2 linked regions of the Homo sapiens genome follow. The protein of the gene in region 1 purifies or fractionates together with the protein of each later gene. This does not show direct contact. Each region holds a gene or a part of one and is shown on either strand. Other genes may lie near its edges.

Region 1 (5,014 bases):
TTGGGGCACCTGCTGGCCCTCTCTGAGCCTCCATTTTCTTACCCACGAAATGTGGATTTGGACCCAGTTATCTCCAACCACCCAAGAGTCTGTGATTCTGCTACTAAGAAAAGCAAAAGGCAAGTACAAGATAGCATGTGTTTAGTTGCTGGGGAAAGCTCAGTCTAATATTAAAAATAATAAGTATAAAAATAATCACCACCATTCACTCGAGCTTGCTTTGCCAGTTCTGCACTGTGATCTTTGCAGGGGTAATCTTACTGAATCCTCTGCTCCAACCCTACCAGGTGGGAACTACTTTTATCTTTATTTTTCTGATGAGGAGATTGAGCCTCAGAGATGTTAAGCAACCTGCCGAAGCAGAGAGTTAATATGTCGGGATTCATCACAGGCAGATCCCTCTGCTCTTGGGAAGCCCAGACCTCAGAAGCAGGAGTGGGTCTGATTCAGGTGTGCTCTGAGGGCCAGCTGTCCTTTCCAAAAATGCCTTCCTTTATTTAGACACCAACATCCTTGCTATTTTGGATTTTTCAATGAGCTTCCTTATTTTCTCCCTATTCTGTCCTATTCAGCAAAATGAATGAATAAATATAGGTTCCTAATGTTACAAATTTAATTTTCTTCTAGAAATGAAAGTGTTTATTTCTCTTCTTTTATTTCTCAAGCCAAAATAATTATTTCCTCCTTCTTAGAAGTCCAGGAATAGGTTAAACTTTAATTAAAAGTCTTATGGTTCAACAGTTGGAATGAGGATCAGGTAATAACGAAGAAACCCCGTAAACACCCTGAGGAGAACCAGCACCCCCTCCATTGGTTGTTTTAGCTCAGCCCACAGCTAACAGCTCAGCTCAGAAAGTTCCTACCACCCACTCCGCTTCTAACGCCTTTTAATATTCGCACAGAGTTTTCTCACATTGTGGCTCTCACACACTTCCTTTATACATGCTGTTTCCTCAGCCTGGAATGCCACCTCTTTCTTTACCTGGAGAACCCCTGTCCCTTAAAGACGCAGGTCAGAAGTCACGTAGTACTCCTCTGCTACCACCTAATGCAAAGCGTGATTATTCCTTCACTTCTCTTCTGCATTTAAATTATTGAGGGAAGAGGCTTGGTCTCATTGCCTTTGGAATAGCTCTGGATCTGCGTTCATGTTTTGTATATAATACGACTCAGTAAAGGTTGTGTAATATATGACTTTCATATGTGTGTATGCAAAGATAATGTGTTCCCATGCCCTTTGACTCAGTTTTCCCCATGGCAATGAATTTAACCACAGGAAATAATTGAATAGGAGAAAGAAGATTACACAGATGGAAGTTCTATAAAATATGTATTTGCTAAACATTGGAAACAAGTTAAATGTTTATCAATTGAGTAATGGCAAGTAAATTGGGGTACATGATCTTGAAGGAACATGACTTATTCTCTCATTCATTATACAAACATATAGACTGCCAAAGAGCTATCAGATACACAGCAATTTAACAGTTACCACATCTGACTTCAATGAATACACAGTCTGGTAGAGTCTTCTAAAATGATAATTACCAAACTACATAGAAAGCGAGCACTATTTGTGGTCTAACGTTAAGAGGAAAACAAATCAGATTATAAAACCATCTGTACATTACGATTGCAACTCTAAACATGTGAGAGTGTGAACAAGGTCTGGACGGGTGAATACAGGAATGACAATATTGATGTGGTTAGATTGGATGACTTTTTCTTTAGCATTATTACAATTGTTTTCGAGCTTTAAACTTTTAGATTGTTCCAAACGTTTCTAGGGGGGAAAAAAAAGCTGCTCCCATAGCCCTGGCTCCCCAGGTTGGCAGTAGCATGAATGATGGGGTATTTTCCCAGATGGGCAGGGGCTTGCCACAAGGTGACTGGGAGGGGATATTCAAGGCAGTCCAGGAGAGTTGGGTTACGGAAGGCTATCACTCTGTAGACTTGGGAGTGCTCACTGGGTGCCATCGTAAGAACCAGCCTCTTCTGTGTCTGGGCTATGCCACGCAGCAGCACCTGCAGGCTCTTCCAAGCTTTGTCAGCACCACAACTTGGGCACAGCACAGCAGTGCCAGGTGTGGAAAGCAGAAGTCTAAGAGGCAGACAAAAGGGTTGAGACCTGCAAGAGTTGGTGGCTAGTTCCTCATGCTGGAAAGGATGATCTCTATGTGAAAGGTACCTTATCCCTCTTCTACAGACCAGGAAACTGAAGCTTGATTTGTCCCAAGCTACTGGAGTTGGGGTTGGAATCCATCCCTTCTTATTTGGGGGCAGGGTTTTTCTATTTCCCTTACTGGCCTGGGAGCAGGTGGAGATGCATGAGGTCATATGGAAGAGACAGGCTGATAGGATGGGTGGAGTCCTTTGGGAAGGAGGAGGCAATGGGGAATCTATTGGTAGGACCCCATGGTGGACGTATGAGAAGCCAAGCATTTGAGTTTTGACTCGATGCAGTAGGCAGTGGGGAGCCCTTGCAGGTTTGGGGACATGATGGAAGAGGGCTTAATGAAGACGAGGCTGGTGTAATCAGGGGAGAGGCTGGATCAGGCACATGGTAAGGGTGATGTGTGGCATTTGTTTTGTGTAATCAGAATAGTACCCACCCATCCAACTTCTTGGAAATATGTATTTCTGCTTCTCCATGAGATTGGACTGGAAGCTTCCATCTTATATATCCCTTCCCCATGGATAACAGCACCTTCCAGGGATGGGCACCTGATACAAACTTGGCCTATCAGAGCACTTCCCTGGGAATTTTGCCCTTGGGGCCAGAGAAACATGGGTGTCAGTCCCTCTCTGGTGATAAAGCTGTGTCATGTAAAGTCTGGGGGATCTATAATGACTAAAAGATTTGAGAGTCAGAGAGAGGGAATTCTAGCTTGGCTCAGGCCCTGGTTTCCCCTCACTTTGAGGGCTCAGACACCCTTTTGCTTGTGCCACAATATGAACAATATTCACCACCCTCATTTAACTAAACTAGTCTGAGTTGAATTTTTGTCATCTGCAAACCAAAAAGTTCTGATGACATTTGCAGTAAGAGAAATGTCTACTCTTTGTCATTCAAAGAGTTCAATTTGTTCATTCTTCAAATTTTGAGCACAATTCTCAACAACACTCTAGGGTTGTTTTGTGTGCATTGGGTCCATCATTTTGTGCCTGTAAGAAATAACAACAAAAATCTTTCCTCACTAGTCAGCATCAGGTTCAGGAACTCCAGGTTCTCTGTAGACACAAGGCTTTGGGATTCCCTTCAGAGAAGGAGCAATGCATCTCCATCACTCGTGTGGTAAGTAAAATTGCTGCTCAGAACACTTCCATGCCTGCTCCTTTGTGATTCAGATGAGGAGAAATCAACGTGGACTGAGCGCCCACACAGGACAGCCAGGCATTTCCCATACAGGTGGTAAAGGTATCTTCTGAACTTCTCCCCAGCAAATGCATAGATGAGAGGATTCAGGCAACAATGGCTAAATGCAACCGTCTCAGTCACACTGAGGGCCAGCCTCAGATCCTTCCTCATGTCACAACTGGGAAAGAAGTCATAGAGCTTAAGCGTCTCCAGGAAAATCATAACGTTGTAGGGTGTCCAGAAGAGGAAAAACACGATGACCACCAGAAGGATCAGTTTAATGGCTTTGGCTTTCTTGTGGTTCTTGCAGGAAAACAGCGTCTGGATGATTCTGAAGTAGCAATAACTCATAATGAGCAGGGGGAGTAGGAAGCCAAGAAAATTTGTTTCCACATTGCGGAGCACGGGCCAGATTTCCTGGAGGACCTCGGGGTAGTCACCAAGGCATTCATTTTCTTTCTGCTTTGTGAACATGAACTGGGGTGCTGCCACCAAAATGGCTGCTGCCCAGACGCCTAGGCTGATGGTGACGCCATGCTGCACGGTCCGGTTGTTCATGGAGTTGGCGGCCAGGACGATGGCCAGGTACCTATCAATGCTGATGACGGTGATGAAGAATATGCTTCCAAAAAAGCCGATGAAGAAGAAGGCGGTAGTGAATTTGCACATGGCATTGTGGAGGCCCTTTTCATTTATCAAATAGTGAGTCCAGAAGGGCAAAGTGGCTACAAACAGCAGATCAGACAAGGCCAGGTTCAGGAGGTAAATGTCGGTGACACTCTTGGGCTTCTTGCTGTTGGTGAGGGCAAACACTACCAACAAATTTCCCACCAGGCCAATGGCAAAGATGACGGAGTAGAATATGGACAGGAACACAGTCCCAAAGACCACGATGTCCCCAATATAACAGGCCTCAGCCAAATCATCGTACTCAAAGTTTTCTGTCACTGATTCAGGGAACTGATCCATGGTGAAGGCCTGGATCAGAAAGAAAAACAAGTAACTGTGTTAGTTATCAGAGAAACAAAGTTGGAATTCTGTGTGGCCTCATATGTAGGCAGGCAGGAAGAAACAAATATTGGTTGGGTGCACACTACATTTCCCAACTTCCCACTTGCCATCTTGTTTAATCCCCACAACAGTCTTGTGATGAAGACTGCAACAGACTCTTCTGACAGGAGAGGCGGACTCCTTTGACTTGCCCAAAGCCATGCAGTAAATGGCTCTGTGAGCATTTGGCTCTAGGCATTTTTTTTTTTTTAAATGGAGTCTCGCTGTGTCACCCAGGCTGGAGTGCAGTGGTGCGATCTCAGCTCACTGCAACCTCTGTCCCCTGGGGTTCAAGCGATTCTCCTGCCTCAGCCTCCCAAATAGCTGGGATTATAGGCGTGCACTACCACGCCTGGCTAATTTTTGTATTTTTAGTAGAGATGGGGTTTCATCATGTTAGCCAGGCTGGTCTCAAACTCCTGACCTCAGATTATCCTTCCGCCTCAGCCTCCCAAAATGCTAGGATTACAGGCGTGAGCCACAGCGCCCAGCCAGCTCTAGGCTTTTTGAAGCTTGAGACAGATCTGTTTTACTTTTACTGCCCAAAATCTCTCCAAAAGCTAGCTAGTTTGACCAATGTGTGGATGAGAAAGGGAGAACCATGAG
Region 2 (5,014 bases), on another chromosome or scaffold:
TTTGGCTCTTCTTTCACATTTCAACTTTTTTCCTCGACCCTCCAAATGGCTATTTGACTCCCCAAATGTCCAGAGTTAGGCTGCAAGTTTGTTCCCATTTGATGTTGACCCCAGAGCTTTATACTCAAGGGTCCCAAGAAACTGAGATGTTTCTGTTAGAACAGTGTGGAACATCCTGTACCTATGAGGCCCACAGGAATGTGTTTCTTTCTCTTTTTTTTTGGAGACAGAGTCTTGCTCTGTCACCCAGGCTTGAGTGTAGCGATCTTGGCTCACTGCAACCTTGGCCTCTCAGGTTCAAGTGATTCTCCTGCCTCAGCCTCCCAAGTAACTGGATTACAGGCGCCAGCCACTGTGCCCAGCTATTTTTTGTATTTTTAGTAGCGACGGGGTTTCACCATGTTGGCCAGGCTGGTCTCGAACTCCTGACCTCGTGATCACCCGCCTCGGCCTCCCAAAGTGCTAGGATTCCAGGCGTGAGCCACTGCGCCTGGCTAAGAATGTGTTTCTTGAAGCTACCATTATAGGATTTGTTACTTTCTGTTGGAAAATAGTTTGGGAAACCTAGTGAGGGTCTTACTTTTTCCTGATAACATGACAGTTTGTGGATAGTGCTTTCTCTTTCTCTCCCCTCCTCTCCCATTCCCTCCCCTCCCCTCCCCTCTCCTCCCCTCCCCTTCCTTTTACGCTTCCTCCCCTCCCCTTCCCTTCCTCCCCTCCTCTCCTTTTCTTTCCCTTCCCTTCCCTCCTTCCTTCTTTTTTTGAGACAGGGTCTCGCTCTGTCACCCATGCTGGAGTGCAGTGGTGCCATCATGGCTCAATGCAGCCTCCATCTCCTGGGCTCAAGTGATCCTCCCACCTCACCCTCCCAAGTAGCCAGGACTACAGGCACACATCACCGAGCCAGCTAATTTTTGTATTTTTTTCCCTTGTAGAGACAGGGTCTCACTCTGTTACCCAGGCTGGTCTAGAACTCCTGGGCTCAAGTGATCTTCCTACCTTGGCCCCTAAAAGTGCTGGGATTATAGGCATAAACCACCATGCCTGGCCATGGTTAGTGCTTGGCCAGATTAGATGAAAACAAATTAATAATTATTTGAGCAAAAGCTTTCCTCTGTGTTCTGAATTGCACCTGATACATTTCTGTCCCTTGTCCACATCTCCTATCACTGTCACAGGGAATGGAAAATAGGAGAAGGGCAAAAGAGACGGGGACACAGGGGTGAAATAGGAGAGGTTCTATCCCCGAATGCTGTGGAATCACTGAAGAGTGATAGGCTGAATATAGCTCCTTAGAAATAGTGGCAGGGAACAGGTGTGGTGGCTCATGCCTGTAATTCCAGCACTTTGGGAGGCTGAGGCAGGTGGATCGCTTGAGCTCAGGAGTTTGAGACCAGCCTGGGCAACATGAAGAAACCCCATCTCTACAAAAAAATGCAAAAATTAGCCAGACATGGTGGTGTGTGCCTGTAGTCCCAGCTACTTGGGAGGCTGAGGTGGGAGGATGTCTTGAGTCAGGGGAGGTGGAGGTTTCAGTAAGCCGAGATTGTGCCACTGCACTCCAGCCTGGGCAACAAAATGAGACCCTGTCTGAAAAAAAAAAAAAAAAAAAGAAACGGTGGCAGGATGGCATTCTACCTCATCTCCTCCTGTTATTTCCTATCAATTCCCATGCCAAGAACTAAAGTGTGAGCAAAATGAACATTATTCTGTTTCATTGATGATGTATTCCAGAGAACGGTGCCTTGGGAAAACTTCTGAGATGAATTTTAAACATTCAGGGTAGGGAAGGACTTAAGGAAGTCACTGTAAGATGCTATTCTGTTTCCTCCACAGGCCAACAACCCACTGTATAAAGAGGCCACGTCTACCTTCACCAATATCACGTACCGGGGCACTTAATGATAAGCAGTCATCCTCAGATCATTATCAGCCTGTGCCACGATTGCAGGAGTCCCTGCCATCATGTTTACAGAGGACAGTATTTGTGGGGAGGGATTTGGGGCTCAGAGTGGGGTAGGTTGGGAGAATGTCAGTATGTGGAAGTGTGGGTCTGTGTGTGTGTATGTGGGGGTCTGTGTGTTTATGTGTGTGTGTTGTGTGTGGGAGTGTGTAATTTAAAATTGTGATGTGTCCTGATAAGCTGAGCTCCTTAGCCTTTGTCCCAGAATGCCTCCTGCAGGGATTCTTCCTGCTTAGCTTGAGGGTGACTATGGAGCTGAGCAGGTGTTCTTCATTACCTCAGTGAGAAGCCAGCTTTCCTCATCAGGCCATTGTCCCTGAAGAGAAGGGCAGGGCTGAGGCCTCTCATTCCAGAGGAAGGGACACCAAGCCTTGGCTCTACCCTGAGTTCATAAATTTATGGTTCTCAGGCCTGACTCTCAGCAGCTATGGTAGGAACTGCTGGGCTTGGCAGCCCGGGTCATCTGTACCTCTGCCTCCTTTCCCCTCCCTCAGGCCGAAGGAGGAGTCAGGGAGAGCTGAACTATTAGAGCTGCCTGTGCCTTTTGCCATCCCCTCAACCCAGCTATGGTTCTCTCGCAAGGGAAGTCCTTGCAAGCTAATTCTTTGACCTGTTGGGAGTGAGGATGTCTGGGCCACTCAGGGGTCATTCATGGCCTGGGGGATGTACCAGCATCTCCCAGTTCATAATCACAACCCTTCAGATTTGCCTTATTGGCAGCTCTACTCTGGAGGTTTGTTTAGAAGAAGTGTGTCACCCTTAGGCCAGCACCATCTCTTTACCTCCTAATTCCACACCCTCACTGCTGTAGACATTTGCTATGAGCTGGGGATGTCTCTCATGACCAAATGCTTTTCCTCAAAGGGAGAGAGTGCTATTGTAGAGCCAGAGGTCTGGCCCTATGCTTCCGGCCTCCTGTCCCTCATCCATAGCACCTCCACATACCTGGCCCTGTGCCTTGGTGTGCTGTATCCATCCATGGGGCTGATTGTATTTACCTTCTACCTCTTGGCTGCCTTGTGAAGGAATTATTCCCATGAGTTGGCTGGGAATAAGTGCCAGGATGGAATGATGGGTCAGTTGTATCAGCACGTGTGGCCTGTTCTTCTATGGGTTGGACAACCTCATTTTAACTCAGTCTTTAATCTGAGAGGCCACAGTGCAATTTTATTTTATTTTTCTCATGATGAGGTTTTCTTAACTTAAAAGAACATGTATATAAACATGCTTGCATTATATTTGTAAATTTATGTGATGGCAAAGAAGGAGAGCATAGGAAACCACACAGACTTGGGCAGGGTACAGACACTCCCACTTGGCATCATTCACAGCAAGTCACTGGCCAGTGGCTGGATCTGTGAGGGGCTCTCTCATGATAGAAGGCTATGGGGATAGATGTGTGGACACATTGGACCTTTCCTGAGGAAGAGGGACTGTTCTTTTGTCCCAGAAAAGCAGTGGCTCCATTGGTGTTGACATACATCCAACATTAAAAGCCACCCCCAAATGCCCAAGAAAAAAAGAAAGACTTATCAACATTTGTTCCATGAGCAGAAAACTGGAGCTCTGGCCTCAGTGTTACAGCTAAATAATCTTTAATTAAGGCAAGTCACTTTCTTCTTCTTAAAGCTGTTTTCTAGTTTGAGAAATGATGGGATTTTAGCAGCCAGTCTTGAAGGTCTCTTTCAGTATCAACATTCTAAGATGCTGGGACTTACTGTGTCATCAAATGTGCGGTTAAGATTCTCTGGGATATTGATACTGTTTGTGTTTTTAGTTGGGAGATCTGAGAGACCTGGCTTTGGCAAGAGCAGATGTCATTCCATATCACCTTTCTCAATGAAAGTCTCATTCTATCCTCTCTCCAAACCCGTTTTCCAACATTTGTTAATAGTTACGTCTCTCCTGATGTAGCACTTAAGCTTCATTTAGTTATTATTTCTTTCTTCACTTTGCACACATTTGCATCCACATATTAGGGAAGAGGAATCCATAAGTAGCTGAAATATCTATTCTGTATTATTGTGTTAACATTGAGAATAAGCCTTGGAATTAGATATGGGGCAATGACTGAGCCCTGTCTCACCCATGGATTACTCCTTACTGTAGGGAATGGCAGTATGGTAGAGGGATAAATAGGGGGCGGGGAGGGATAGTCATGGATCCAAGAAGTCCTTAGAAATAGTGGCAGGGAACAGGTGTGGAAGCTCATGCCTGTAATTATAACCTTCAGCTACTAAGACAGGTGTGGTGGCTCACGCCTGTGATTATAATCTTCAGTTACTAAGACAGAGTCCATGAGAGTGTTAATGGGACATTTTCTTTAGATAAGATGTTTTATATGAAGAAACTGTATCAAAGGGGGAAGAAAATGTATTTAACAGGTGAATCAAATCAGGAATCTTGTCTGAGCTACTGGAATGAAGTTCACAGGTCTTGAAGACCAATATTATTTGTCAATATGTGGGGATAACCTGTAGCTGCATTCATGAGGTAGCAAATAGCAGTTTTGGCCTGTGGGGTGAACAGCTAAACAGTGTTCTGGCATCAGATAACACGGCACAAAGGGATTGTGTCTAGCTCTTTTGGAGAAAATTTATGTCCAGTCTCAGGATCTGTGGACAATAACGGAAAACTTTGAATATTCCTGACAAGTTGCCATATTAGGAGTCAGTTCTTTACTTCTCTGAGATTCCCAGGTCATCCATGATTTTTTTTTTAATTTGAGACAAAGCCTCACTCTTGTTGCCCAAGCTGGAATGCAATGGCAAGATCTCAGTTCACTGCAATCTCTGCCTCTCAGGTTCAAGCCATTCTCCTGCCTCAGCCTCCCCAGTAGCCGGGATTACAGGCACCCGCCACCACACCCGGCTAATTTTTGTATTTTTAGTAGAGACGGGGTTTCACCATGTTGGCCAGGCTGGTCTCGAACTCCTGACCTTAGGCGATCCACCTTCCTCGGCCTCCCACAGTGCTGGGATTACAAGTGTGAAGCACTGTGCCCGGCCAGTCATCCATGATTTTAATGGGGTCCAAAGGCCTCTTTTTCTT

What was found.
Region 2: the proteins of CX3CR1 (region 1) and ITGB3 purify together in Homo sapiens (co-immunoprecipitation; one study listed by IntAct). This does not show direct contact.

What each region holds. Positions count from the first base shown.
Region 1 is NC_000003.12:39,262,183-39,267,196, forward strand, and holds the end of CX3CR1 (CX3C chemokine receptor 1), read right to left. Parts: intron 4,337-5,014; coding exon of another isoform or gene 4,328-4,336; coding exon 3,260-4,327; 3' UTR 1,314-3,259; downstream 1-1,313. UniProt on the Homo sapiens protein: Receptor for the C-X3-C chemokine fractalkine (CX3CL1) present on many early leukocyte cells; CX3CR1-CX3CL1 signaling exerts distinct functions in different tissue compartments, such as immune response, inflammation, cell adhesion and chemotaxis.
Region 2 is NC_000017.11:47,308,303-47,313,316, forward strand, and holds part of ITGB3 (integrin beta-3 precursor), read left to right. Parts: intron 1-1,836; coding exon 1,837-1,902; 3' UTR 1,903-5,014. UniProt on the Homo sapiens protein: Integrin alpha-V/beta-3 (ITGAV:ITGB3) is a receptor for cytotactin, fibronectin, laminin, matrix metalloproteinase-2, osteopontin, osteomodulin, prothrombin, thrombospondin, vitronectin and von Willebrand factor.